4 linked regions of the Homo sapiens genome follow. The protein of the gene in region 3 interacts with the protein of the main gene of each other region in a biochemical or structural test. Each region holds a gene or a part of one and is shown on either strand. Other genes may lie near its edges. The genes, in order: TGFB2, COL6A1, DCN and FAM20B.

The links.
Region 1: the proteins of DCN (region 3) and TGFB2 form a complex in vitro, tested with the Homo sapiens proteins (one study listed by BioGRID).
Region 2: the proteins of DCN (region 3) and COL6A1 form a complex in vitro, tested with the Homo sapiens proteins (one study listed by BioGRID).
Region 4: of the proteins of DCN (region 3) and FAM20B, one has a biochemical effect on the other in vitro, tested with the Homo sapiens proteins (one study listed by IntAct).

What each region holds. Positions count from the first base shown.
Region 1 is NC_000001.11:218,348,330-218,355,356, forward strand, and holds part of TGFB2 (transforming growth factor beta-2 proprotein isoform 2 preproprotein), read left to right. Parts: intron 1-7,027.
Region 2 is NC_000021.9:45,984,760-45,991,786, forward strand, and holds part of COL6A1 (collagen alpha-1(VI) chain precursor), read left to right. Parts: intron 1-1,766; coding exon 1,767-1,926; intron 1,927-2,184; coding exon 2,185-2,313; intron 2,314-2,395; coding exon 2,396-2,416; intron 2,417-2,739; coding exon 2,740-2,760; intron 2,761-2,850; coding exon 2,851-2,895; intron 2,896-4,324; coding exon 4,325-4,378; intron 4,379-4,848; coding exon 4,849-4,893; intron 4,894-4,992; coding exon 4,993-5,019; intron 5,020-5,498; coding exon 5,499-5,525; intron 5,526-5,618; coding exon 5,619-5,663; intron 5,664-6,013; coding exon 6,014-6,067; intron 6,068-6,219; coding exon 6,220-6,282; intron 6,283-7,027. UniProt on the Homo sapiens protein: Collagen VI acts as a cell-binding protein.
Region 3 is NC_000012.12:91,151,811-91,158,837, forward strand, and holds part of DCN (decorin isoform a preproprotein), read right to left. Parts: intron 6,700-7,027; coding exon 6,486-6,699; intron 5,379-6,485; coding exon 5,265-5,378; intron 1,380-5,264; coding exon 1,286-1,379; intron 1-1,285. UniProt on the Homo sapiens protein: May affect the rate of fibrils formation.
Region 4 is NC_000001.11:179,063,885-179,070,911, forward strand, and holds part of FAM20B (glycosaminoglycan xylosylkinase), read left to right. Parts: intron 1-42; coding exon 43-214; intron 215-420; coding exon 421-612; intron 613-2,915; coding exon 2,916-2,975; intron 2,976-7,027. UniProt on the Homo sapiens protein: Responsible for the 2-O-phosphorylation of xylose in the glycosaminoglycan-protein linkage region of proteoglycans thereby regulating the amount of mature GAG chains.

The sequences.
Region 1 (7,027 bases), on a different chromosome or scaffold from region 3:
TTGGTAATTTTCTCTTAAAGGTTCTAGTTGCAGGGTGGTGCTTTTCTTTTTTAATATTTATTTTTAGTTTGACAAGTCCTAGCTATGTGACCTGCCATGTCTTGTACTTGATGGTCTCAGAAGTCAGCCCATGTATCTAACCCCAGTCTTCCTAGTGACCCTTATTTTGCTGCAGTTTCTCCTGTTCTTGTTCAATAGCAGAACAGATGCAGAGAATTCTGGCAAGCAGGATGATTTTATTATTGTAATTATGGCACTATCCGCAACAGCGGTGATAAATACACTCCACCCCTGGTTATCCCCTTTGGGAAGTAAAGCTTTCTATCTGGGGTGGAGCCAAGGAGATATTAGGAAAGAAAGTTCATTGTAATTAGTCCAAAACCATTGAGACAAACAAGGAGTTCAGTCAGTTTGCTTTCTCTAGCATGTGCATCGGTTCTACCGGTATTTGGGCAGAGCGGAAAGTATGTTATGTAGAACCTGAATAACTCATCTTTCAATGTTTATATGCAAAAGGTCTAATAAACTGCCAGCACTTCTATAACACAGAAAGGAGCTCTGATCCCATTTACTGAATAGGTGTGGAGAGAGCAAGTAACCCAAGAGGGCATTAGTTCTTTGTTCTCTGAAGCACACTTCAGTCTGAAGAGCTGAGATGATCCAACCCAGGGTCATGGTCATCAACAAACTGGAAAAATTCCTAGATTATTAGGAGGATTTCAGAGTATGGCATTTAACATCAATGTGTGGATTCTCCTTTCCATTTCACCCCAGCCACCAAATAAATGAAAACCTCCGATACGTCCAAGATAAATAAAATATACTGCCAGTTTTCATACAAAGAATACAGGCTTTAAAAAGTCTGTATTCTGTATGGAAGTTTAGGAGCAGAAAGCCATATTAATAGCAGGTTCGATACTACTGTGCAAGGACTGGATAATTTTATAGAAAATAGGTTAACTGATTTTCCAGCACTTTTTAGTTATACTGGAATATAGCAAACCCTTCCAAAAAAAAGGAAAAAAAGAAAAAAACCATATTTTTAAAAAGCAAATTGAAAGTACAGCATTGGCTTATATACCAGCTTTCCCTCTTTAGGACTTTTCTGCCTAACTTTTAACTCAGCTGTCACTGAAGTGGCTGTGGGGAGGGAGTGTGCCTGTCATTCCTTGCAGTGAATCTGGCGAGGGTCATAAGCCCCAGAGATGAAGCCATGGGAAAGATCACTGGTTCATTTTTTACCATCAACTTATTAGCGTTCAGGGAGTGACTTCAGCTCAAGTATTACAAATATGCTCTAATTATACTCAATGAGCTATATATCATTACAGATTGCTGATAGCCCTTTGTGGGACATTTTATAAAGTTCAGACTACATATTTTTAGCAATGTGGAGATTTAAAAGTAAAAATATAAGAGATATTGTATATGCCCTGAGGCATATTTTGTCTTAAATATTATCCTTGGCCAAGTATACTATATAAATACAGTAAATATGAATAGAACTGGCCAGGTGCCAATCTCCTAGGATGAATTTTAGTCAAGAATGTATTTATGGGATATAAATAATACTGTGTCAACATTTAAAGAAGGGGTCTGATTAGTTTTGAATTTATTCATATTGATCTTTTCACGTGCTGTTAGTTTAAGACTCGAAGTGGAGTTATGCTAAGGTTTACCGATAGTTTGCCCACTGGGAATTAGTGGACCTCTAGTAGTTTAACAATCCATTTGAAGTTCGAGGCACATCTATTCGAAAGATGCTGCACAAGGTTTTAGAAACTTAGAAAGGGTGATTCAGTTATACACAGGAAGAATTCAAATAATTGACATGTAAGAATCTGTAGAGAGTCCGACAATCAAAAAGAGGAAGAGACACAACGTTTCATTTTCTTTCTTTTCTCTCCCTTTTTCATTGTAACCAATCAGCACATGTTGTGGTTCTAACCCTGGTGATTTTGTACTCCCCCCAACACCCGCACCCCTACTCCCACTGGAACGTTTGGCAATGTCCAGAGACACTTTGGGTTGTCATGACTGGAGGTGGAGGGGTGCTACCGGTATTTAGTGGGTCAGCCAGGGATGTTTCTAACCATCCTATAATGCATAGGGCAACCCCCCATTCCCAACATCAAAGAATTATCCTGACCACAATGTCAGTAATGCCTCTGTTGAGGAGCCCTGGTATTTGTTGGGGGTTACTGAATTCTGTTAACAGTACCATTTAGAAAATAATAACAAAAATAAAATATCTTTATGATCAAAGCATATTCAAATGAGAATACTGAATAGGAGGATAGTCAGACAGTTATCTTAATTAAATGGAGTGTGGATTAGACCATTGTATACAGTATGTACTTTATTTTTTGTGGTCTTAAAGCCCCTAAATTAGAGACATCAAAACTTCCCATTTATTTAGCTTAAGTGATGGTGTTGACCTATCCATTACTAGCTTCAGTCAGCAGCAGTGTGATGTTAGAACAGAGAAAAAAGAAGTGAGGAATTATCATGGATTCCCCTTGCAAGGGAAATAAGCAGTTTGTGTTAACAAAGAGTGGAATCTCCAAGCTAGGCAATGGAAGAAAGTAAATAATCATCTTGATTTATTCTACCATTTTGAAGTAGATACACTAAAAATATACAGCCTGAAAAATCACAATGAGATTCCCTTTGTAGTTGTTTCACATGAGTGTTAAACATTTAACATGAAGCAATCTCCTTTTCTATTTCCTCTGTAATTTTCCAAGTTAAATTGTGGAATGTAGAATGAATACCAATGACACTATGGTTTTGGGGAATGTGACTTAGCATTCAATTCATGAATATGTCTTTCTATATACAAGTTGCTGGTCTGTTGGCCACTTGCCCAATGAAGGAAAATGTTAGCGATTGCTGGAACGTAGTGGTATTTTTGCTTTATGTAGTAAGCATTTTTACTATTTTATTTTTTAGGATTCTCTATGTGTGTGTTTGCATGTGGGTGTATGAGATAGAAACAGAAAGAAAAAGAGAGCGTATCAAAGACAGACTTGAACTTCTTGACTTCCAGAATGATTGAGTTATTAATATACAACAGACCAAACTTTAATTCTCCCTTTTTTATTGCATCGTTGCTTGTACTAACTCTAGTGTCTAATTGTGGTTACATTTAAGTTAGGTCACATGCTCCTCCTTCAGGATTTCCTCTTTTTTTTACTTTTCAAAGACTAGAAAAACCTCTCAAAGAAGTATACTATTTATAACGAAAGCAGTTGGGTCGTCTTTGTTGCCAAGTGAGGCCAGCCAGCTTTATGCCTCTCCTGAGGAGACCCCACCCGATGAAAGAGGGGCTTTGCAGAGGTTGAGGGGCAGGTGGGGACCTCTCCACCTCACAGAAGGAAGGGGTTGGGGGAGCCCACTGCGTCTCCACAGCAACCCCTGTGGTCTACTCGAGGAGTTGCACTTTTTGAATGATTTCTCCCTGGTGAAAAGATGGTGATGTAACCTAGTCGCAGCATCTTTCATATAAAGATATGAAAGAATGACAGATCGTTTTTCCTAGAGGAAACTGAGATGTGAAAAAAGGGCTAATGACTCACTGTTGAACCCACATCAAATCTGGGTTAGAACCAAGGAGTTCACTGACTTGTAGGCCTTCGCCCAGAGATTACAACACACTTTAGGCTGCATATTTAGAAGGTTCGAGAAATTAGAGTGGAGGCTCCTGGCCCTGGGAGAGGTGTGCAGGGTCACCACTGGAGTGGGACTCTGGCCCACTGCCACTCCAGCCCGCCTCCCCCTGCCCCTTGCCCACAGCACCCCCACCCCACCCCGCCCCATTATAGGTTCAGGAGTAAGGTGAGCAGCCGAGCAAGAGACTGCATGGAAGAGCTCTGGAAATAGCCCCTTCCGCTATCTTGATGTAGCATTTCCGGTACTGATGGGCTCCCGGAGAGAGGATTTGGATTTGCCAGATGTGCTTGCTCTATTTAGGCAGCGCTTCTGCTCAAGGGTGGATTCCATTTTGCAGATTCTGCACAGCTTGATGAAATGTGGCTCTGCCCGAGATAAACAAATGCCCATTGTCATTTTGAAGGCATATGTGTGCTTTCATTTTAAAAAATATCCTTTAAACAATGATAGTTTTTAACCTGGGAATTCAACGTTCTCCAGGTATTTTATTTTAGATTTAATAATATGTTAGGGGATTCTTTGATGGGTTTGTTTAGACTGAAAAGTTTGCTTCTGTCATTTGTTTGGAATAAATTTGCATCATGCTACAACCACAAGCTGCTTTTGATGGTTGGCTGTTTTGTTTCTTTTCTAAGCGCTGATATCCAGAAGTGGGTGTTTAAGTGCCCCACACTCTCACCACTACCTTACTTCCTGAATTGGCTTGGTGGTCTTGACTCTGAATGAAACTGCCCCTTGGCCTCTTCCCTACCATCTCTAAATTGCCTTCTTTTCCTTCATTGTGATGGAATGTCTGCATGGATGGATGGTCGAGTGCTCACATATCATGTCCCATTTGATACTCTACTGAGTTTGTGGGAGACAGCACCCCCTTTACTTAACCAGGCCTCAGTTTCTTCCCTTGTAAAGATGAAGAAAGTAACACTGGCCTTCTAGGGTTGTAAGGATTGATGATGACATATGTGAAGAAGCACCTAGTGCAGCTGCTCTGGCATGGAGTAGGTCTTCTTTGCCTGGCAGCAATTCTCTGAGTCTCAAATGCCTTTGACTTCAGGGTATACCATTATTTTATGTGCCACTAAGAAAAAAATATCACTTCAGTGATCATGCCATTGATTTTAAGAGAGGGTCTGGATTTTAGGGAGATGAAAATGTGATTATGAGCGATACCCCAGGAACCACTTCCATTAACCTCGGATGTCTTGGAACCTCCAGCTCATTCTTTTCCTTTGCGATAGTTCCACTCAGTGGATCTCTTTCCTTTGCTCACTCAGTTTGTTCCTTAGGTGGCCTCTGACACTTCAGGGCAGGGATGGGATGGGGCTGGAAACAGAGAACATAGGGTTGGTAATTCACCATGTCTGGCACTATCCAGTTCTCCTATGAGAAGGCCTGAGAGTTTAGGCAATTAGATTCAGGCCTTTCAGGGTCTGGTCCCTCCTCCTTGCTCAGCCCCTCCTCTCACTAAATCCCTGCATGAAAACTATACTCCAGTCACATTGTCCTCTTTGCCTTTACCCAAATGGGCCATTTATTTTCATGCCTCTGGGGTCTTTGTTTATGCTGTTTCTTCTACATAGAGATCTATCTTTTCACACCTTTAAAAATCCTTCTGCCTGGTGTGGTGGCCCACGCCTATAATCTTAGCACTTTAGGAAGCTGAGGCGGGAGGATCACTTGAGGGCAGGAGTTGAAGACCAGCCTGGGCAACATAGCAAGATCTTGTCTCTACAGAGAATTTAGTTGGGCCTGGTGGTATGTGCCTGTAGTCCTAGCTACTTGGGCGGCTGAAGCAGGAGGATTGCTTGAGCCTAGGAGTTTGAGGCTGCAGTGAGCTATGACTGCCCCGCTGTCCTCCAGCCTGGGCAACAGAGCGTGACCCTGTCTCTAAACATAACAAAATAAAACAAAATATTTCTGGGCTTAGTCAGATGCCACCTCCTTAGAAAACCTTCCTTGATTGTCCTAGTCTTATTTAATTAGCTCTTCCTTTGCACTCTTACTATACTGATGGTTATCTCTATCTCTCCCTCTTTTCTTTTGATCTTAGTAAGATCTAACTCTGTTCTGGGCTGTCTTCTTCATTGGTTTGTAGACTGCCCCAGGAACAGAAATCAAGTCTAACTTATCTATATTCTTATAGAACTTAGCATATTGTGTTTGATCAAGGAATGTTTGACAAATGGATGAGCATTCCCTTTACAGAATGAGATTGAACTACAGGAAGAAGAAGAATCTGTGAGTTCAAAGAGGTGTCAGGGCCAGGAGATGCGGAGAGATGAAATGTTCTGACCTTCATTATCAGGGAAAATGTGTCTGATGGGTCATGTCACTATGCTAAAGAGCACAGGGATTCTCATAACCATAATATTTTCTGTTTCCAATTCTCAGATAATAATGAAGGTGGTGATAATGATGATTAAAGCTAACCTTTATTGAGGACTTTTTACAGGCCAAGCATAGCTAACCTTTATTGAAGACTTATAAACCAAGCATAGTTTTAAATATTTTACATATATGTACTCTTTAATACTCACAAGCAATCCTATGAGGTTAATACTCATACTGTCCCTTTGACAGCTGAGGAAATGGAAATAGCTATTTCTATTAGTGATGTGTTATGGAAATTAGACTTTCAGCCACCACAGGTAATAGGAGCCCTAATACAGAGCCCAGGAAATAGAGAGCATGACCTTTCTTGCCTTCTTGATAAATGATGTAATACATCCATGGAAGAATGGTGGCTCTCCTCTGTTAACAAGAATTACATTCACAAGCACTGAGAAAATATACCTCTGAAGCACACAACCTGGGTTTTTTTTTCTTGCCTCTTAACACATTCAACTTTTATTTCTGCACTTAATTGATACAAAAAGTGTGATTTATTAAGACTTTGGTTGTTTCTGTTTGTTTGTTTGTGAGACAGAGCCTTGCTCTGTTGTCCAGGCTGGAGTGCAGTGGCACCATCTCAGCTTACTGCAACCTCTGGCTCCCGGGTCCAAGCAATTCTCCTGCCTCAGCCTCCCAACTAGCTGGGATTACAAGCATGTGCCACCACGCCCAGCTAATTTTTGTGTTTTTAGTCAAGATGGGGTTTCACCATGTTGGTCAGGCTGGTCTCGAACTGATCTCAAGTGATCCATCCGCCTCGGTCTCCCAAAGTGCTGGGATTATAGGCCCGAGCCACCGTGCCCAGCCTTGGTTTTGTTTTTGAACTGCAATCATTTTCCTCACAAAAATTTTGATAAATTTTATTGATAGGGCATTCCTATTTCAGAGAATTAATTTATTTGGGAAGGCAAGATGATATACAATGAGCATGATGACTTTGGAGCTGGACAGACCCATTAAATAA
Region 2 (7,027 bases), on a different chromosome or scaffold from region 3:
AGACAGAGACAAACAGAGACAGAGACAGAGACACAGAGAGAGACACAGAGAGACAGAGACGGGAACAGAGACAGGCAGACAGAGACAGAGAGAGACAGAGACAGAAACAGAGACAGAGGGACAGAGACAGGCAGAGAGAGACAGAGAGACAGAGACAGAGACAGACAAACAGAGACAGAGAGACAGAAACAGGGACAGAGACAGAAAGAGAGAGAGACAGAGGGAAACAGAGAGAGACAGAGACAGATAGAAAAAGACAGAGGCAGAGAGAAGCAGAGACAGAGAAACAAAGACAGTCAGAGACAGACAGAGACAGAGACAGAAACAGAGACAGAGAGACAGAGACAGAGGGGCAGAGACAGGCAGACAGAGAGACAGAGACAGAGACAGCGAAACAGAGACAGAAACATACAGAGACAGAGAGACAGAGAGAAGCAGAGACAGACAGAGGCAGAGAGACAGAGAGAAGCAGAGACAGGGACAGAGACAGAGACAGAAATAGAGAGATAGAGACAGAGGGACAGAGACAGAGAGATAGAGACAGAGAGGGAGACAGAGAGATAGAAGCAGAGAGAGAGAGACAAAGACAGAGGCAGAGAGACAGAGAGAGAAGCACAGACAGAGACAGACAGAGAGACAGGGACAGACAGAGACAGAGAGACCGGAAACAGAGGCAGAGAGACTGAGAGACTGAGAGAGACGGGGTGGTTTTCCCCACAGCATCAACACCAAGCAGGGCTAGGATCACTGAAACAGACTCATCAGACCCGAAGCATGCGCTTTCTCGGGGTTTTTCTGGACTGAGGGGTTTCCTCTCATCCCAGTGTCCAGCTGTGGGGACGCAGGGGCCGCAAGCCCCGGAGTGTCCAGAGGGGAACGTGGCCTCCCCACACCCAGCCCTTCACGAGGCCTCAGGATCCCAGTGGGGGTACCCGAGGCTGCCCTGTCCAGCCAGGCGGTGCGGGGGGTTTGGGGAGAGCCTCTCCCCGAGGTCGGTCTCAGAGGGCCACATGGCCGGTGTGGGCCGGACATTCCCTTTCCAATGGTTGTGCCCACTTCCCTCCAGAGTTGGTGCCAAGCTGGGACCTGGGGGACTTGGAGTCTCAGGAAGTCGTCCGCTGTCTGCAGGGGGTGCATGGGGGATGTGGCCACACACGTCAGAGTGCGGCCCCCTGTGGAAGCCACAGACAGACACGACTCCCCTAAATGAGCTCGCCCTTCTGGCCGAGATGCTCAGCGTCCCCAGCAGGCTGCCCGACTGCCCTGCGATACTGCCCTCCTTCCTGCTGCTCCCACTTTCCCTTTCGGGGGGTTGGATTTGGGGCATTCAGGGATCGCCCTGTTGTTTGCTCATCACACCCATTTCCTGCAAGAGCCACGGTGACCGAGCAGCCTTGAGTTGAGGCAGCTTGTGGGTAGACGCGGCGGGCATCTCGGAGGGGCACGCTCCCTGCCACCCTCAGCCTCCACTCACTGGTCAGGGGCTTTGCGCCCCAGGGCACCCCAGGAACCGAGCCTCCTTTGGGGTCATGGGTGCCTCTCCTGGGAGGGCGTGGATTTTCCAAAGCAGTTTAGAGAAATGAGACCCACAGGCGTTATTTCCCATGGTGAGGTTCTTTTCAGTAACCCCCACCGTATAGCCAGGATCAGCAAAGAGAGGCGGCTCCTCCCGGTGAGACAGGGACCAGCACCTCCCGGACAGGCTTGGGTCTCCCTCCAGTTCCCCCACCTAGTCTCGAGGTCTCACGCTGCCCTCTCCTGTCCAGGGGCTCCCACCTGAAGGAGAATAAGTACCTGATTGTGGTGACCGACGGGCACCCCCTGGAGGGCTACAAGGAACCCTGTGGGGGGCTGGAGGATGCTGTGAACGAGGCCAAGCACCTGGGCGTCAAAGTCTTCTCGGTGGCCATCACACCCGACCACCTGGTAGGCACCGGCCCCCCCCGGCAGATGCCCCCAACCACAGGGAGTGGCGGCTGCAAGGCCCCCGGCAGCTGGGACCGTCTTTTGGTCCTCGGGAGGGTGTGGGTTCTCCAGCCGGCCACCCTTGCCCCTGAGAGGCCAGCCCCTCCTGCTGAGGAGCCTGGAGCGCCCCAGCCCAGCCTCCCCTCTGGCCCTGTGGGAAGCGGCCCCGGCCGTCAGGGGTCCCAGCCCTGCTCAGCCCACCCTGAACACTGCCCCCAGGAGCCGCGTCTGAGCATCATCGCCACGGACCACACGTACCGGCGCAACTTCACGGCGGCTGACTGGGGCCAGAGCCGCGACGCAGAGGAGGCCATCAGCCAGACCATCGACACCATCGTGGACATGATCGTGAGGCCCCTGCCCAGGAGACGGGGAGGCCCGCGGCGGCCGCAGGTGGAAAGTAATTCTGCGTTTCCATTTCTCTTTCCAGAAAAATAACGTGGAGCAAGTGGTAAGAGCCCTCCCCACCACCCCCAGCCGTGAGTCTGCACACGTCCACCCACACGTCCACCTGTGTGTTCAGGACGCATGTCCCTATGCATATCCGCCCATGTGCCCGGGACACATGTCCCCTGCGTGTCTGCCCGTGTGCCCGGGATGTGTGTCCCCCTGCGTGTCCACCTGTGTGTCTGCCCATGTGCCTGGGACATGTGTCCGCCTGTGCGTCCATCCGTGTGTCCGTCTGCCCATGTGCCTGGGTCGCATGTCACCCTGTGTCCCAGCCGTATGTCCGTGGCTTTCCCACTGACTCGTCTCCATGCTTTCCCCCCACAGTGCTGCTCCTTCGAATGCCAGGTGAGTGTGCCCCCCGACCCCTGACCCCGCGCCCTGCACCCTGGGAACCTGAGTCTGGGGTCCTGGCTGACCGTCCCCTCTGCCTTGCAGCCTGCAAGAGGACCTCCGGGGCTCCGGGGCGACCCCGGCTTTGAGGTGAGTGGTGACTCCTGCTCCTCCCATGTGTTGTGGGGCCTGGGAGTGGGGGTGGCAGGACCAAAGCCTCCTGGGCACCCAAGTCCACCATGAGGATCCAGAGGGGACGGCGGGGGTCCAGATGGAGGGGACGGCGGGGGTCCAGATGGAGGGGACGGCGGGAGTCCAGATGGAGGGGATGGCGGGGTCCAGATGGAGGGGACGGCGGGGTCCAGATGGAGGGGACGGCGGGGTCCAGATGGAGGGGATGGCGGGGTCCAGATGGAGGGGACGGCGGGGTCCAGATGGAGGGGACGGCGGGGTCCAGATGGAGGGGACGTCGGGGCTCCAGATGGAGGGGACGGCGGGAGTCCAGATGGAGGGGACGGCGGGGTCCAGATGGAGGGGACGGCGGGGTCCAGATGGAGGGGACGGCGGGGTCCAGATGGAGGGGACGTCGGGGCTCCAGATGGAGGGGACGGCGGGAGTCCAGATGGAGGGGACGGCGTGGTCCAGATGGAGGGGACGGCGGGGTCCAGATGGAGGGGACGTCGGGGCTCCAGATGGAGGGGACGGCGGGGGTCCAGATGGAGGGGACGGCGGGGTCCAGATGGAGGGGACGGCGGGGTCCAGATGGAGGGGACGGCGGGGTCCAGATGGAGGGGACGGCGGGGTCCAGATGGAGGGGACGGCGGGGTCCAGATGGAGGGGACGGCGGGAGTCCAGATGGAGGGGACGGCGTGGTCCAGATGGAGGGGACGGCGGGGTCCAGATGGAGGGGACGTCGGGGCTCCAGATGGAGGGGACGGCGGGGTCCAGATGGAGGGGATGTCGGGGTCCAGATGGAAGGGACGGCGGGGTCCAGCAGGCAGGCTCCGGCCGTGCAGGGTGTGGACTGTCCCGGGGGCGCTGGGGGCTTCTGAGGGTGTCTCTGTCCGCCCTGCCCTCAGCCGCACTCTGTTCAGAAGGACCTTTCTGGAGGTAGGAGGGTGAGAATGTGGGTCCCCTGCTTCTGTGTGGCTCACATAGGATGACCTTAAACGTTAGAATTAGCTGCTGATAATTAAAACTTGCCATGAGGCTGCTCATGGACCTCAGATTTCTGGCTTCTCCTAAAAACCATCAAACCCAGCAGCTGTGGGCCCGAGTCCCATGGCCATTTCCTGGGGGTCGAGCTGTGACCCTGGGGGGCTTCTGTGCTGCACGTCCCTCCCACCTGTGCCTGGGGGTCAGCAAAGCCGAGCAGACAGGAACGAAGGCAGGGAGTGGGGGGAGCTGGCGTGCGGGTTGGAGCTCCCAGACCCAGGCTGACCAGATGTGATGGGGAAGGTGCTTTAAAGCCCTTGATCCCTGAAGGCTGGATGAAGCGTCTTTTTAAAAACCTGTTTCGTGAGCCAGCTTTTTAGAAAGAAACGGGGCTGCCCCAACCTTGACCTGTTTTGTGTTCCAGGGAGAACGAGGCAAGCCGGGGCTCCCAGGAGAGAAGGGAGAAGCCGGAGATCCTGTGAGTGCCTGACTGTGGGGTGGGGGCCCTAAGAAGCTGGAGGCGGGGAACGACTAGGCCTCGGAAACTTCCGGAAGAGTGGCTGGGTTCTGAGTGCCAAAGTCACACTGCCTGTTCCTTGTGGGTGGGAGCAGACCTGGAGGGGCCACAGCCCAGCCATCCTTCCACACAGCCCCCCAGGCAGCCCGTAAGCCCCCCTGCCAGGGAGGGGCTGGGTGGGGAGGTGGCCCAGGGTGCTCAGGCCGGCACCGTCCGGGGCCCCTGCCGTGGCTCCTTGGCCCAAATCCTATCCATAGACTTCCCTCCCCCAGCTCCACCTTGGAGGGCCTCGGCACCATGGGCCCCGTGCAGCAGGGCCCCTCTCTCGGCCTGACCAGGCCTGGGCTGGAGGGAGGGGTGTGGGGCTGGGTGGGACTGGCCCCTGCCCCTGCTCCTCCGGGGGTGTCTCACCATCTCCTCCTGTGTTCCAGGGAAGACCCGGGGACCTCGGACCTGTTGGGTACCAGGGAATGAAGGTACGTGCCCCCCCTTTCCTGGCCCGAGCCCGGTGGTGCCCTCAGCCTTGCACAGCACTAACAAGCCTTCCTCTTCCTCTTCTTCCGCTGGGTGTGTAGGGAGAAAAAGGGAGCCGTGGGGAGAAGGTGAGTGAGGCTCGACCTCGGAGCTGGTCTCTCCAGGCGCAGATGTGCCATCCTGGACGAGGGTGTCCCCGGGGATGAGGACAGTGTCCCTGACAGGAGACCACGTGTCCTGCAGACCCGCTCCACCGCCCCTCGCCGTCCCCTCCATCTGGAAGGACAAGGACAGCCACCCAGGCACCCAGCAAAGGCGCCTGTGTCACTTTCACCCCACCCCAGAGCAGGGGTCCCCCGGGCGGTTACCCTCTGCGGAGCCGGGGGTCCCCCGGGCGGTTACCCTCTGCGGAGCCGGGGGTCCCCCGGGCGGTTACCCTCTGCAGAGCGGCCCCTCCCCATCACTGTCAGTCCCCATGATTCTCAGCAGTGATGTTGTCCCCTCGGGTTGGGGGCACCCAAGCCCCTGCCTCGCGTGGGCCTAAGCCAGGCTTGCCCTGCCCTCCCCACCCCAAATACCCCCTCACACCCGCTTCCTGTCTCCGCAGGGCTCCAGGGGACCCAAGGGCTACAAGGTGAGCGTGGGCTGCTGGGAGGGGGGAGTTCTGCCCCCACGGCAGCATGTCTGACCTGCATCTGACTCCTGCCTTCGTTTTCCCGCCTCACAGGGAGAGAAGGGCAAGCGTGGCATCGACGGGGTGGACGGCGTGAAGGTGACTGGGGGGAGATAGGATGGACGGGGAGGGACGAGGAGGAATGGGGCGAGATGGGGAGGGACGGAGTGGACGGCGTGAAGGTGACCCGGGGAGGGATGGGGTGGACAGTGTGAAGGTGACCAGGGGAAGGACGGGGAGGGACGGGGAGGGATGGGGTGAGGTGATCCCGGCAGGAGGGACAGGGAGGAGTGGGGTGGACGGTGTGAAGGTGACCCCAGGGGGGTGTCTGCTAGGCAGGGCTTTCCAGGGAGGGTGTGGAGGGCATGGAGGGCACCAAGTCTGACAGTTGATTGGCCTCAGTTTACCCACTTGGCCGTCAGATTTTCTAGTTTTCTTCCTCTTTCCAGGGGGAGATGGGGTACCCAGGCCTGCCAGGCTGCAAGGGCTCGCCCGGGTTTGACGTAAGTCACTTCCTCTCACTGATACTTTAAAACTAGCGCTGTCAGCAGCACCTCGTGTGGACCGTTTTGACTTCTGTCTGGGCGGTCTGGGGCTGCTGCCAGAGGCCGCGGTGGCCTCTGCCGGTGGTGTCATGCTGCCCTCTTTTCTCCAGGGCATTCAAGGACCCCCTGGCCCCAAGGGAGACCCCGGTGCCTTTGGACTGAAAGGAGAAAAGGTGAGTGACTTGCGGCCCCTGGAGGACCAGGGCCTTCACGGTTGGCCAAGCGCTGAATTGGAAACCTCTCCTGGAAGCAAGTCCTGGTCCGAGCATGTCGGCCACCCGTGCGGCCTCAGAGGGGAGGAGCTGGTGGAGGCTGGAGGCAGGCAGAGGAGCAGCGGGGACAGTGCCCACCGTGGGGACAGTGGCCGTGGCGCTCCCGCCCAGAGCCTTCCCTGCAGCCCGAGGGCCTTCAGGCCTCCGCCATTCTGTCCCCCGCACCTGCCGCTCGCTCGGCACAGATGGGACCCCACCGCGTCACTCCTAGCCTGCGAGCCGCAGCCCAGAATGGCTCTCAGAACTGAGAATGGGCTGGGTGGCACTGAGGGTGGCGAGTGGGCGGGAGGGTGGTGAGCGGGGGCGGGAGGAGGGTGGTGAGCGGGTGGGAGGGCGAGTGGGCAGCGGGAGGGCGGGAGCACGAGGCGGGAGAAGGAGCTTTTTCGTCTGACAGCTGAGTCTGCCGTTGCTGGTGTTTTCTCTGGAGTTTCTTTGTTGAAGCTGAAGTGTTGGGGAAGACAAAGGCGAATGCTGACCCCACCCCAAACATTCCCAGACGAGCTCCTAGAACCCAGCAGACGGTTTCCAAATCTCATCTTCAAGTTCCCAGATTACCCTCCAGGCCCTAGATTTGAGTTTGCCAATTTGCCAGCCTGGCAAAGCTGTGCCTTCTCTAATGGGAACCAAATCCTGCCCCTTAGACAAG
Region 3 (7,027 bases):
ATGAAAGCAAACACCACACATGGATGCCTTTCTTACAAGCATTGTGTAGTTAATCAAGTCTATAGGAAAGGACATTTTTTGTTTTTGCACTTACTCTTCCCAGTTCTTGGAGTGCTTTCTCCAACCTCTCTGAGCCTGGACAAAGTCCATTTATTGTTAAGGTCTCGGCTCAAAGTTACTGTCTTTGAGATTCATCTGACAGAACGTGATTGGACATAGTCTCCTATTCCTTATAATATCCTAAGTTCCAACATCAAATTATGGTCAACCATAATATTGGAACATAATATTCCTAATAGTTTATTTTTAAAAACTGTTCACTTATTCAAACATTTATTTGTATATTTAATAAACAAATATTCTTGAAAACTTATGTGCATGATATTATGCTAGGCATTGTGAGGGACAGAGGTCTCATGGATCAAAAACCACTTTTCCCATCAAAGAATATTTTACCTAGTAAAGGAGTTGATTATACACACACACATGCATATATATATATATACACATTCAAAGATATATTTTATATTTATTTATCCACCATGAAATTTATATATAACAACAGGAATGAGTAAATCTGGCATGATAGTGTGCTTCTCTGTAGGGACAGTCAGCAATATGTACAGATCAAAAAGAACATAGTGTTCCTTGAAGACAAGTGAAAACGTTTGCCAGATTGAAGTTATGTTTGAAACCAGGACAAGTACTAGTATCACTTATTTTAAAAAAAATCATTAAGAAGGGCCAGCAAAAACAACAACAACAAAAGCTTTTCTTTTGTTGATCTACATTAAATGCCCAGAGATATTTTATTTTAAACTTTTCAGAGAAGAGGGGGTTAGAGAATCTCATAATTATTAAAATAGTAATTTGTGTGATGCTCAATATTTCTCTGTCTTGGTAGATTTCATTTTAATGGATTTTCAAATTCTAGCAACTGTGTTATAATTTACTTAACTTTCTGTTTGATGCAAATAAGTTAGAACATATTAAATGCACATATTGATTTAATCACACACTTTGTGTATAAAATATAACTAATCTATAAACAGTATAGTATTAATAAAATATGAAGCTGATCTTGGTGGTTTTAGTAAGGGCACTATTTCATTGGCTTCTTCTCAAGAAATAATTGGATATGCTGAAGTTTGAGATTATAGAAACAACAACAGCAGTGAAATGTAGTACACTCAAAAATCAATCATCATGTTTATAATTCTTATCATATAAGCACTAATATACCTAGCCATTGTTCTGATAGAATGTCATGAAAGAATATTATTACTTAGCCAAATTATTCAGTCCTTTCAGGCTAGCTGCATCAACTCTGCTGATTTTGTTGCCATCAAGATGTAATTCCGTAAGGGAAGGAGGAAGACCTGGAATGTGGAATTAAAGATGTTAAATTAGCAGATAAACATTATAAGTACAGAATGTGGACAAACTTAAAGAAGACATATGCCATCAATTTTCTAAAAGACACACAGTTTCAAAGAATCAGCTTTACTTTTATCTTTTTTTTTCATCCCTTTTATAATAATGTGTGCTTTTGGAAGTAGTGGAAGCCCTTGCTATTTTTCTCTTAGGTTGACTTTAACAAAAACCTGGATGATTTCTATCATGTAGTCAATTTTTGTTCTTGGAATAGAAGAACTGAAGTCAACGCTGAGTCTCATTATTCTCTTCCACCTTTGTTAATGGGCTAAAACTGACGTTGATAAAAGATAGTAATTATAAAGTGGGAAAGTCACTATTCGAACCATAATGAAGAGATTACGTATAAATTAAACCCATGTACAAACTTAATTGTCTATTTCATTAATGAGCATCATTAAAAATTAACACTGATATACTGTGCTGGTCTTAGCCTTAATTGACTTTTCCATAAAAGCATCAAATACCTCTGCAAAATGTCTGTGTAGAAACAGCTAACATTTACTTATGCCTATTAAATCCAGAATGTTTATGCAGAAGGAGTGGAGAGGTCTATAATCAAGTGATCTGCCATATGTGGAGCACCTGGGGTAATAATTTTACATCCAAAGTACCCACTAAACCTCTAGATAGTACTTGCATGGCTGTGATTTCCAAAGATCGAGTATTATAAATATAAAAGTTTAAATATTTTATTTTCATTTCCTCCTAGCATCTGAGGCTGTATTATATTTTATACAGCTTTTAAAATAACATATTGTTCCACTTAATAGCAATAGATACAGAGAAAATAGCAAATTGGTTAAGTGTAGAAAGAACATCTGATTGGCAGAAAGTCTTGGCTATTTGTCTATAAAGACACAGAATTGAAAAACCACAGGTTTCATTTTGTCTAAAATTTTTATCACATCACACTGAATTCTGTCAATATTGTCCATTTAATAAAATAGTTTAGTCCATATTTGACTTGAAAATGATTCTTAGTTTCCTATGGTAGCATATTTTGTGTTAGAGCTGCTAGGAAAAGGAACATCTATTTATTGTATGTCTGTTACGCACCGAACATTGACCTTGGCACTTTTCCTACTTCAAATCCTTTAAGCCTCTCAAAACATAAATTATTGGTCACTAATCCCTTTTCACAGTTAAATAAATAAGACTCAAAGTTACAAAGTAATTACAAAGTAATGCAAAATGTATATTTTTTAATGCAGTGCCTCCAGTACACCAATTGCTATCACAACCATCGGCCTTACTTAGTTTCAAAGTGTCTCCCTTTTTGGGATGTCAGTTTCCCAAATGTAAAGTTATAGCTAAGAAGAAGTTTGACTATGGGAGAAAACCTTGCAATAGGTTTGAGATAGACAAATTTGTAAAGTGCATCATTAGCTTCTGCAACTGTGGCATTGAGTTAAAGAACCCATACTCCAGTTATTTTATTTATTTGTTTGTTCATTTATTTTAAATTTTCTTTTTTCTTTTCCTTTTTTAAGATAAAATATATTGAGGTTTACATTGGGCCAAGTACTTGCGTGTACAATACAAGCCTTACTTCTATAGAGTAATCCTCACAATAATCCTAGTAGACAGGGTTATTAATAGCTCCATGTAACATCTAACAAACCTGAGGTTATAGAAATGCAGAATAATTATCCTAAAGTCACAGTACAACTAAATGACTGAGTTAGGTCTCTCACCCAGGTTGATCTAAGTGTATGATTTTTATAGTCTCTACACTACTTTCTACTGCCTTTCCATTTCCATGAGTGATGGGAGAAAATATCACCAGGAGGTTGCTGATATTCAGGCATAGGTATCCCAGCCTAAGCAAGGTGGAATCATGTATTAGATAAGCATAACGATGAATAGAAAGGAGGACTTAATATGCCAACAGAGTGAAATAGTTAAACACACGAGTTCTGACATCAGCACCACACAATTCCATCTCTGCCGCTTCCTAGCTCTAAGAACTTAATTACAATTTTCTTTACCTGTTTAAGCCTCATTTTCCACTTTTATGAAACAGGAATTATAACCCTACTATATAGGGACGTTGTAAGAATCATATAGAAGACTCCATGACAAGCATTTGGCATGATACCCGGAACTAAATACATGCTTAATAAATTGTAGTTACTTAACTTTTCTATTAAGCGGTAGTAAATAAAAGCAAGCTATAAATGATGAGGAAAGAATACCTGGGATAGATAGAAGACATAGCAAAGTAAAGGAAAAGAGATCATGAAATGATAAAAGGTATCAGTGAAGGATATTTTGGAGCATGCATTAAGAGGGACAGCAAAGTCTGAGATTGTGCTAAATGTAAGTCATCTGGCTGCATGAAATAAATTTCAGCAAGAATTTTAATAAGATCTATCTATCTATCTATCTATCTATCTATCTATCTATATCAATCCCCAATTTATATCTATCTGAGATATAAATATTTCATTCCTGCACTGGGGATAGCAAAAGATTACTTGTTACATGCAAAAAATTGGAGACTCAACATGAAAGTGCTTTATGAATTATAAATCAGTCTTTATCATCTATGTATCTATCTATGCCAGTAGTTGCTACTAAGGAAGTCAAAAGCATGCTCTGTATTCAAAAGACTAGGAGGAGGGCAAGGGGTGGTAAGAAAGCATCCTATGGAATATGTACTCTCAGGAGTTGAAATTTCTGTAAAAGAACAATAAAGGACAACTGGTGTTTTCTGTGGCCAAATGTCTACATTTTGTACGCACTCAAGAACAAGGCATCTAAGTTGAGAAAGGGACAGACTGAGGGGAAAACTAGATAATATAGAGGGCTTCTGTGAGACTGAAAAACCCAGAGTAGGGACGATGTGCAAGTTAGAGGAATTTATTATTGGTGGTTTGATGCCTTTTGTAATTCACAAAGACTGGCTTTTGTGCCTCTCCTGGGAATCCCTTGGAACAATGAACTTACCCTTGTGGCTATGTGGTCATTGCTGTGTATTTGTCTGGCTTGGTTTTAGAGAGTAAGCTCCTAAAGGCATGTAGCATATCCTGTTCCCTGCCCTGTCTTAAGTGTTTGGTACATCGCCTACACATACTGATTGTTCAGAACATTTTTAATGCATAATAGAGAGTTATATTAATTCCCTACTTATCTATATGCTAAATATTTCTCTAATTATTTATTTAACTTTAAAACAACTCAATGAAGTGGATAGCAGTATTATTTCCACTTGACAGATAAAGAGATAGAGGACAAATGAATAACTTTTTCAAAGTCTTTGAACCACTTTATGGTAATTTGGGCTCAAGCAAACTGACTCCAAAATCTACACTCTTCACAACACACAACTACCACTATCATTCAGATATTAATAACTGGAGTGTCTTAAAAAGGAAAAAAAAATTCCCTAAGCTATTGCAGACTCAAGATAAAAATTGGATCAATTTCAGAGGTACTCCCATATATCTTTTTTTTTTTTTTTACAAACACCAAGGCATGCTATTTTTTAAATAAATGTACTTTTTCTTTGTGATTTTACAATATTATAAAATCACTGTGCATTAAGTTGTGTCTTAAACTAGACATTAACAGGAGTCTACCCATCTCTACAGTGAGCCTGGATGGCCCCGTGGTCATCCAGACTGAATCACTGGATATAACACTAGCAGTAATAGAGAATTTGCTGGAAATATAAACACTGGATGAAACACTAGCAGTAATAGAGAATTTGCTGGAAATAAGGTTGGCCTCTTAGGTGACAATTCCAGTTTCCACAAGATTTTTTTTTTTTAATTAAAGCCTTTGAATTTAAATTTTTCAAAATGTTTTGGAGAATCTTCTATCACCTTGAGGAATGCTGGTGATATTGGTATCAGCAATGCGGATGTAGGAGAGCTTCTTCATTCCCTGGAAAGCCCCATTTTCAATTCCTGAGCTCTTCAGCGGATTGGTGCCCAGTTCTACAAATGTAATAAGTGCAAGGCTTTTAGAGGAAATTTTAGGATATTACTAGTCACTGTAGTATCTGTTTCAGCAAGCAACCTATAAAGAAATAGGGATTAATATCAACTTGACTAAAAAACAAAAGTGAAGTTAAAGAGCATGCTCCTCAGGAGAATAGCAAAATAGGATAAAAATTTCCCTTATTAAAACAAAAGCCAAACAGACAATGACTTATGAATAATAATGACTTATGAAAAAGACTATTAGTGAAAGCAATACCAATAAAATTATTTAAGATGCATACACAGGTTTGCCCAGAAATCAACTAAAGCAAGTTTACAATTCCCATCTTACGTTATTTATTATTTTCCTAAGGTATTTTAAAATTTTGTTAAAGAATTTCAATCTAGCATTTTATAAGCCAATAATAAAATTACAATTTTTACTATATGTTTAGAGAAATTTTTTTTTTTTTGAGACGTAGTCTCACTCTGTCACCCAGGCTGGAGTGCAGTGGGGCCATCTCGGCTCACTGCAAGCTCCGCCTCCCGGGTTCACGCCATTCTCCTGCCTCAGCCTCCCGAGTAGCTGGTACTACAGGCCCCCACCACCACGCCCGGCTAATTTTTTGTATTTTTAGTAGAGATGGGGTTTCACCATGTTAGCCAGGATGGTCTCGATCTCCTGACCTCGTGATCCGCCTGCTTCGGCCTCCCAAAGTGCTGGGATTACAGGCATGAGCCACCGCGCCCAGCCATAACATATTTTTAAAGCAAATGATTTATGAGTGTTTAGAATACAACAGGTCCCCAAAACGGAAAGGTATCTCAAAATATCTGTAGTTAAGCACTATTTAAACTCATCTTTGCATATTGTGTGTGTGGTAGGGTAACTTCAGCCCTAGGGTTTTCTCCATATTCTCAGATACTCAAGGACATACATAAAAACATCACTGTAAGGTCCAGATTCAAAATCCCAATTTCTCTTGGCCCTGTTCTTATAAATCACATAGGCTCCAGGCATGTAGCTTGTAGCTAATTTACCTTCCTGCACTTAAAACCCAGTTGAAATCTCTTAAGATAAAAACTTGAGTTTTGGTCTTAAAGTTATAAAAATGTCTGTACCTATGACAATCATCTGGTTCAGTCCATTGAAAGTAACTTTTCGCACTTTGGTGATCTCATTCTCATGGGCACGCAGCTCCTGAAGAGTTTTGGGCATTTTTTCTGGCAATTCCTTCAGCTGATTCTTGGACAGATAAAGTCGTTCCAACTTCACCAAAGGTGTAAATGCTCCAGGACTAACTTTGCTAATTTTATTGTTGACAAGAATCAATGCCTGTAGATAGTGAAGAAAAACATCTCTTTAAATCCAAAACCTTCCACATACATGTAAAACAAGGGCATGTTTGTTCATTCCATTCATAGGGATAGCAGAGAAATCTAAAAAATTGCAAGAAATCAGAAAAAAATTAAGTAAGTATTATTTCTTTACTTAAGAAGTGTATAGGCCAGGTGCGGTGGCTCATGCCTGTAATCCCAGCACTTTGGGAGGCTGAGGTGGGAGGATCACTTGAGGCCAGGAGTTCGAGACAAGCCTGGCCAGCATGGCGAAATCCCGTCTGTATCAAAAATACAAAAATTAGCTGGGCGTGGTGGTGGGTGCC
Region 4 (7,027 bases), on a different chromosome or scaffold from region 3:
CGTTATTTCCTTAAGTGTATTTGGCTCCTTTCTGTCCTTTAGGAAACAATACTTGTTTTTATGGGAAGTGCTATTACTGCCGAGAAACAGAACCAGCTTGTGCTGATGGAGACATAATGGAGGGATCTGTCACACTTTGGCTTCCAGATGTGTGGCCTCTGCAGAAGCACCGTCACCCATGGGGCAGGACTTACCGAGAAGGCAAATTGGCCAGGTAAATGCTCCTATGAGCCATTACTTAATTCTCCCCTGTGCCTAGCCAGGTGCCAACTCTGTAAAGGAGCCAGCAGTTCTGTCCAAGAGTGAAAAGAACTGTGGAGTCAGGGGCAAACCGGTAGGTAGGAACTCTGTCTTCTCTTTGTGTGTAACAGTGCCAGGTACAGTGTTGTCACTCAGTGCTGTGATGCTGCTTGTCTCCAGGTGGGAGTATGATGAGAGCTACTGTGATGCTGTGAAGAAAACGTCCCCTTATGACTCTGGCCCGCGCCTCTTGGACATCATTGACACAGCTGTCTTTGATTACCTGATTGGCAATGCTGACCGCCATCACTATGAGAGCTTTCAAGATGATGAAGGCGCTAGTATGCTCATCCTTCTTGATAATGCCAAAAGGTGAGACCAGCAGGACTGTCCTTGTCAGGGAGGGGTTTCTGTATATGAAAGAAGGGCATTTTCCAGAGCATCCTGGAGAATATCCAGAATGCAATTGATAGGCAACATCCTTCTTTTTTCCACTTGGAGTCTTTGCTATTGGTACCTGTCCTTCTCTCCACTCTCAGGGATCTCAGTACTTCAAAAAATGGAAAAGTGGTTCTTCCAAGGAGTCTAAGACTCTATGAGCCTCTTCTCAGACAACTGGAAAACCAGGGTTATTCATTTGTTACTACCTACATCGTTCTTTCTTGGCTATGATATTTGGTGTTTAGAAGCTTGAGAAATACAGATGTAATAGAGTGTGGAATTTGTCGTTAAATTTATTCTATCCAAAGGTTCCTGCAATTAAAAAATTAATTTATTTGGTAGGATGTTTTGCTATTTTTGTGTTTGTCTAGGTCCATACTTTTGCTGTCATGGGAAGAAGAGCTGTTGCCTAGTGTGGATTTTATATATAACAACAAGTTACTTTTATCTTGAATAAAAAATGTTTATTCATTTTGAATAAATAGAATGTCCTTATTTTTTTAGGCCTGAGCTATTTGGAGAGCACATTGTATTTCCATTTCATATTCTGCATTCTCTGTGGTGGCCGGTTTAGTGCCACACTTTTTTTTTTTAAGTTTTTTTGAGACGGAGTTTTGCTCTGTTGCCCAGGCTGGAGTGCAGTGGCACAATCTCAGCTCACTGCAACTTCTGTCTCCTGGGTTCAAGCGATTCTCCACCCTCAGCCTCCTGAGTAGCTGGGACTACAGGCACTCGCTAATTTTGTATTTTTAGTAGAGACAGGGTTTCGCCATTTTGGCCAGGCTGGTCTTGAACTCCTGACCTCAAGTGCTCTGCTTGCCTCGACCTCTCAAAGTGCTGGGATTACAGGTGTAGTGCCACACTTTTAGTTGCATTTAATAAATATTTACTAAATAGAACGCTTCCTTGGAGTACAGAATTTTCCAGGCCCTAGGTCACTACTGTTAACATTGGTTGTTGGAAATAAGCTAAGACATGGCTCCTCAGCAAAGAGTGCTTGGGCAGCATTTGCTAATGATGCCACCATCTTATACTGAACACCAGGCGCCTCATGCTTTGTGAAAGATGGTGATGGCCACAGAAAATGAAAAACCAGCAAACACTGCCTCTCCCTCTACCCCATTACAGCAAAGCACATAGCACTCATCCTGTGATACACATGATACTTGATATTTGGTGTATATCAAAATAGTTGCTTTGTCCACTCGGGCCGCTATAACAAAATCCCTTAGACTGGGTAATTCATAAGCATCAGAAATGTATTGCTTACAGTTTTGGAGGCTGGGAACTCTAAGATGAAGGTGCCAGCAGATTCAGTGTCTGGTGAGGGCCTGTTTCTCAGATGGTGCCTTCTATGTGTCCTCATATGGCAGAAGAGGTAAACACGCTCCCTCTGGCCTCATTTATAAGGGCACTAATCCCGTTCATGTGGGCTCTTCCCTCGTAACTTAATCATCTCCCAAAGGCCCTACTTCTTAATACTGTTGGACTGTTGTACCAGGGATTACGAATTTGAGGGGGACACAAACATTCAGACCATAGCAGTTGCCTTTGCCTTGAATTACTGGAGGACCTACACTGTACTAAGGGCTACCAGACTCTAGCTATTAAGGTGAGCCTCTGGAAAGATTGAAAGGTTGACAGTTTTCCAGAATCAGTTCTCCTTTTCTAACTCTGAATTGCTGCTAAGGTAATTTTTGCATCTGCTGTGAATCAGTTTCCTCAGCCTGTGTGAACAGTTTTTCCAATTTGAATCTGTACTTATACTTACTTGTAGGGAATAGGATATTGCTAATTTGGGAGTAGAATAAGTGTGACTTCTTTTTACAAGTAATGGTCATCTGCTTGTTTGTGGGAATCTAATATAAATGGCTTTTATTTCTCTCTGGTCCTTAAAACCTTTGCAGGCTTAGGGGTCTTCAAGTTCTCCCTTTGGTCTGTGAACTCCGCACTGTGTTTACCATAGTTATGCTCCAGCACCTTGTGATATCTTGGCAGGAAAATGTCCCTTGTAAATGAGTATATTTGTTGTCAGATATTTTAGTACAGGCTGTTAGGGATCCTGTGTCTAATTGGTCATGCCCCGCTTGTTTTCAATTTAAGTGATTTGAGCTGCTGGAGCGTGAAATTATCTAGGATCACATTTGAGTTTCATATAGAATTTGCTATTGCTTTGATGCTAAGAAGAGAACAGTACTTCCACCTAATTCACTAAGTTTTAATTTAATTTTCAGCTTTGGGAACCCCTCGCTGGATGAAAGAAGCATTCTTGCCCCTCTCTATCAGTGTTGCATGTAAGTTATGCACAGCAAATACATGTGCCTGCATTGCCTTCTTTTCCAGGCTCAGGTAACAGTACATCCATTTTCTTGGCCCTCAAACTTTCTGATACCTGAGCAGTGCTTTTCATACTTTTCCAACCTAGAACCTCTGGACATCCTGAAATGGGATATCAGGGAAAGGTGAAGGCAGATAACCCAAAGCTCAGAATTCATCTCAAATTTTGTATGAATAGAAGATTGTATGTATACAGTAATACATGTTTGGTTTAATAGCAGAATATAATCACCCACACTCCCCACCCCACTGCCAAAAAAAAAAAAAGGAGTAAAATCTGTATGCCTGGTTACTACACCTGGTTACCTTGTGGTTTTAACTCCTCTCACTCACCCATCACATACCACCTGGGGTTTACATATTTCAGTTTGAAATTGTCTAAACCAAAAGTAACTTTTTCCATAAATAATAATTTATTTTGGCCAGGCACAGTGGCTCACTCCTGTAATCCCAGCAATTTGGGAGGCCAAGGTGGGTGGATCACCTGAGGTCAGGAGTTCGAGACCAGCCTGGCCAACATGGCGAAACCCCGTCTCTATTAATAATACAAAAATGAGCCGGGCATGGTGGCAGGCACCAGTATTCCAGCTACTTAGGAGGTTGAGACAGGAGAATTGCTTGAACCTGGAAGGCAGAGGTTGCAGTGAGCCGAGATTGTGCCATTGCACTCCATTCTGGGTGACAGAGTGAGACTCTGTCTCAAAAAAAATAAATAATAAATAATAATTGGTTTTTTTAAAAAAACTCTGTATTAGAGAACAGAGAAATTGAAAAATGAGTCAAGAAAATGAGATAAAGTCTAAGCTCTAAGAAGCTTCTTTTCATCATTCCTGAAATAATTTTATTTTACTATTTTATTTTTTATTTTATTATTTTTTTGAGACAGGGTCTGCATCTGTCACCCAGGTAGGAGTGTGGTGGTGCGATCTCAGCTCACCGAAATCTCTGCCTTTCGGGTTTAAGCAATTCTTGTGCCTCAGCCTCCCGAGTAGCTGGGACTACAGGCACCTGCCACCAAACCCAGCTAATTTTTGTATTTGCAGTAGAGACGGGTTTCACTATGTTGGCCAGGCTGGTGTCAAACTATTGACTTCAAGTGATCCGCCTGCCTCAGCCTCCCAAAGTGCTAGGATTACAGGCGTGAGCCACCGCGCCCGACCATCCTGGTGTAATTTTAGAGCACGCACATCAAGAATTAGCTGGGATCCACCTTGCTTGGCTACACAGAAAAACAAGTTCAAGAGCACCATTTAATACTGGTCAGCTCCCAGCAACATCATATCACATAAGACTGCCATAGCAACTGGTCTCTTAATCTTCTTTCTTTTTTTAAATGACAACAAAATTCTGTAGAAAGTAACAGTTTACCCAGGCTGTCCTTCATTGTCTTTATTAATGATAGGAAGCAGTGATATATACAATCAAGAATTGTGTGTTTGTCTTTGAAGATGTTTTTGTGGTAGTAGTTTTATCAGTCTGGTTCAATCAGGAGATAGCAAAGACATAGTGTGATAAACAGAGGTGTTTAATATAAAGAATTTTTTTTTTTTGGAGATGGAGTCTTGCTCTGTCACCCAGGCTAGAGTACAGTGGCGCGATCTCGGCTCACTGCAGCCTCCACCTCCCATGTTCAAGTGATTCTCCTGCGTCAGCCTCCCAAGTAGTTGGGATTACAGGCGCCCCTCACTGCATCTGGTTAATTTTTGTATTTTTAGTAGAGACGGGGTTTCACCATATTGGCCAGGCTGGTCTAGAACTCCTGACCTTGTGATCTGCCTGCCTCGGCCTCCCAAACTACTGGCATTACAGGCGTGAGCCACTGCGCCCGACCCAATATAAAGAATTATTAAATTCCAATAACAGGAGTGACTATAAAAGGGCTGAGGGAGAGTACCCAAGGAAGGACAAACTTGGAAGGGGATCCCCTCCCAATGACTGGAGTTTGGACTTCAGTGGAGAAGGTTTAGCTCAGCCCACCAGATAGCAGAGAAGTTTGCTAGTTTGCAGGTGCTGAGCAAGCCAGAAGCAACTCTCCAGAGTGCAGGTGGGGTGTACATTCAAGCCACAGCTGGTGTCATGACATGCAGAAGGAGAGAGAGAATCCAGTAGAAACCTTCTGTGCTGCAAGTGAGGCACACACGTGGGCCTTCAGAGGGAATTGGGGCCAGGGTGAGCAGATGGCCTTCAAAGCTCTGGTTTCCATGTTGAGAGGGCCTCGGGAGAGTTATCCCCAGGCCAGGCTAAGGCTTCAGGTCACCAAGGACCCACACCTTCTGGGAGTGTGGCTAGACAGGTCTTCAGTGGATGACCTCTCTGCCTCCCCAACACCACCATTGACCCACAGAAGCATTTGGAGAGCCCCTTCACCCTGCAGTGTCCCCTTTGCGCCCTCTAGTGAGAATGCTTTAGGGGAAAGATGCTTAAAGGAATCCCATCCGTCGTAGCAGAGCACATTTTGTTTTTGTTTTTGTTTTGTTTTGTTTTTTGAGATGGAGTCTCGCTCTGTCGCCCAGGCTGGAGTGTAGTGGCACGATCTCGGCTCACTGCAACCGCTGTCTCCCGGGTTCAGGCGATTCTCCTGCCTCAGCCTTCTGAGTAGCTGGGATTACAGGCACCTGCCACCACGCCCAGCTAATTTTTTGTATTTTTAGTAGAGATAGGGTTTCAACATGTTGGTGGGGCTGGTCTCGAACTCCTGACCTCAGGTGATCCGTCCGCCTTGGCCTCCCAAAGTGCTGGGATTACAGGCATGAGCCACCGTGCCTGGCCAGCAGAGCATATTTTGAAGAGTGAATTTGGAGCTGAGAGGAAGTAACATAATAACTTAGTCTCACAGAGGAAGCTCTGATGCTCTGGGCATTTGTAATATATTTAAGAATAAAAATAACTGTACTCCGTCTGTGCCTGTTTGTCCCTTCCATGCATGCTTTATGCAGCAGTCTTTCTTACCTTTTAAATTGCTGCACAACAGGCTGCCTTTTACAGAATCAGACATTTCTGCATACCCAGTAATTCCTCCTTTACCCACAGAGAGCTAAGAACTTTTCTTCTCAGATTTTAAATAAAAGATATGCTATAGTTGGTGTCTTAGTTCGTTTTGTGCTGCTGTAACAGGATACCACAGACTGGGTAATTTATTTTATTTTATTTTATCTTATTTTGAGATGGAGTCTCGCTCTGTTGCCCAGGCTGGAGTGCAGTGGCGCGATCTTGGCTCACTGCAACCTCCGCCTCCCAGGTTCAAGTGATTCTCATGTCTCAGCCTCCCAAGTAGCTGGGATTACAGGCATGTACCACCATGCCCGGGTAATTTTTGTATTTTTAGGAGAGATGGGGTTTCACCATGTTGCCTAGGCTGGTCTCGAACTCCTGACCTCAAGTGATCTGACCCCTTGGGCCTCCCAGAGTGCTGGGATTACAGGCATGAGCCACCATACCTGGCCAGACTGTGTAATTTATAATGAACAGAAATTTATTGGTTCACAGTTCTGGAGGCTAGAACGTTAAATATCAAGGTGCCAGCATCTGACAAGGGACTTATTGCTGTGTCATCATGTCACATGGCAGAAGGCAAAAGGGCAAAGAGAGAGGGCAACAAGGGGCTGAACTCGCCTTTTTTTTTTTTTTTTTTTTTTTTTTTGAGATGGAGTCTTGCTCTTTTGCCCAGGCTGGAGTGCAGTGGCACAATCTTGGCTCACTGCAACCTCCACCTCCCGGGTTCAAGTGATTCTTGTGCCTCAGCCTCCCAAGTAGCTGGGATTACAGGCACCTGCCACCACGCCCAGCTAATTTTTGTATTTTTAGTAGAGACGGGGTTTTACCATGTTGGCCAGCCTGGTCTTGAACTCCCAACCTGAGGGCCCACCTCGGCCTCCCAAAGTGTTGGGATTACAGATGTGAGCCACCGCTCCTGGCCTTGAACTTGCCTTTTAATAACAGCATTAGTTCCACCCATGAGGGCAGAGCACTCATGGCCTAACGACCTCTTAAAAGACTCTACCTTGATACT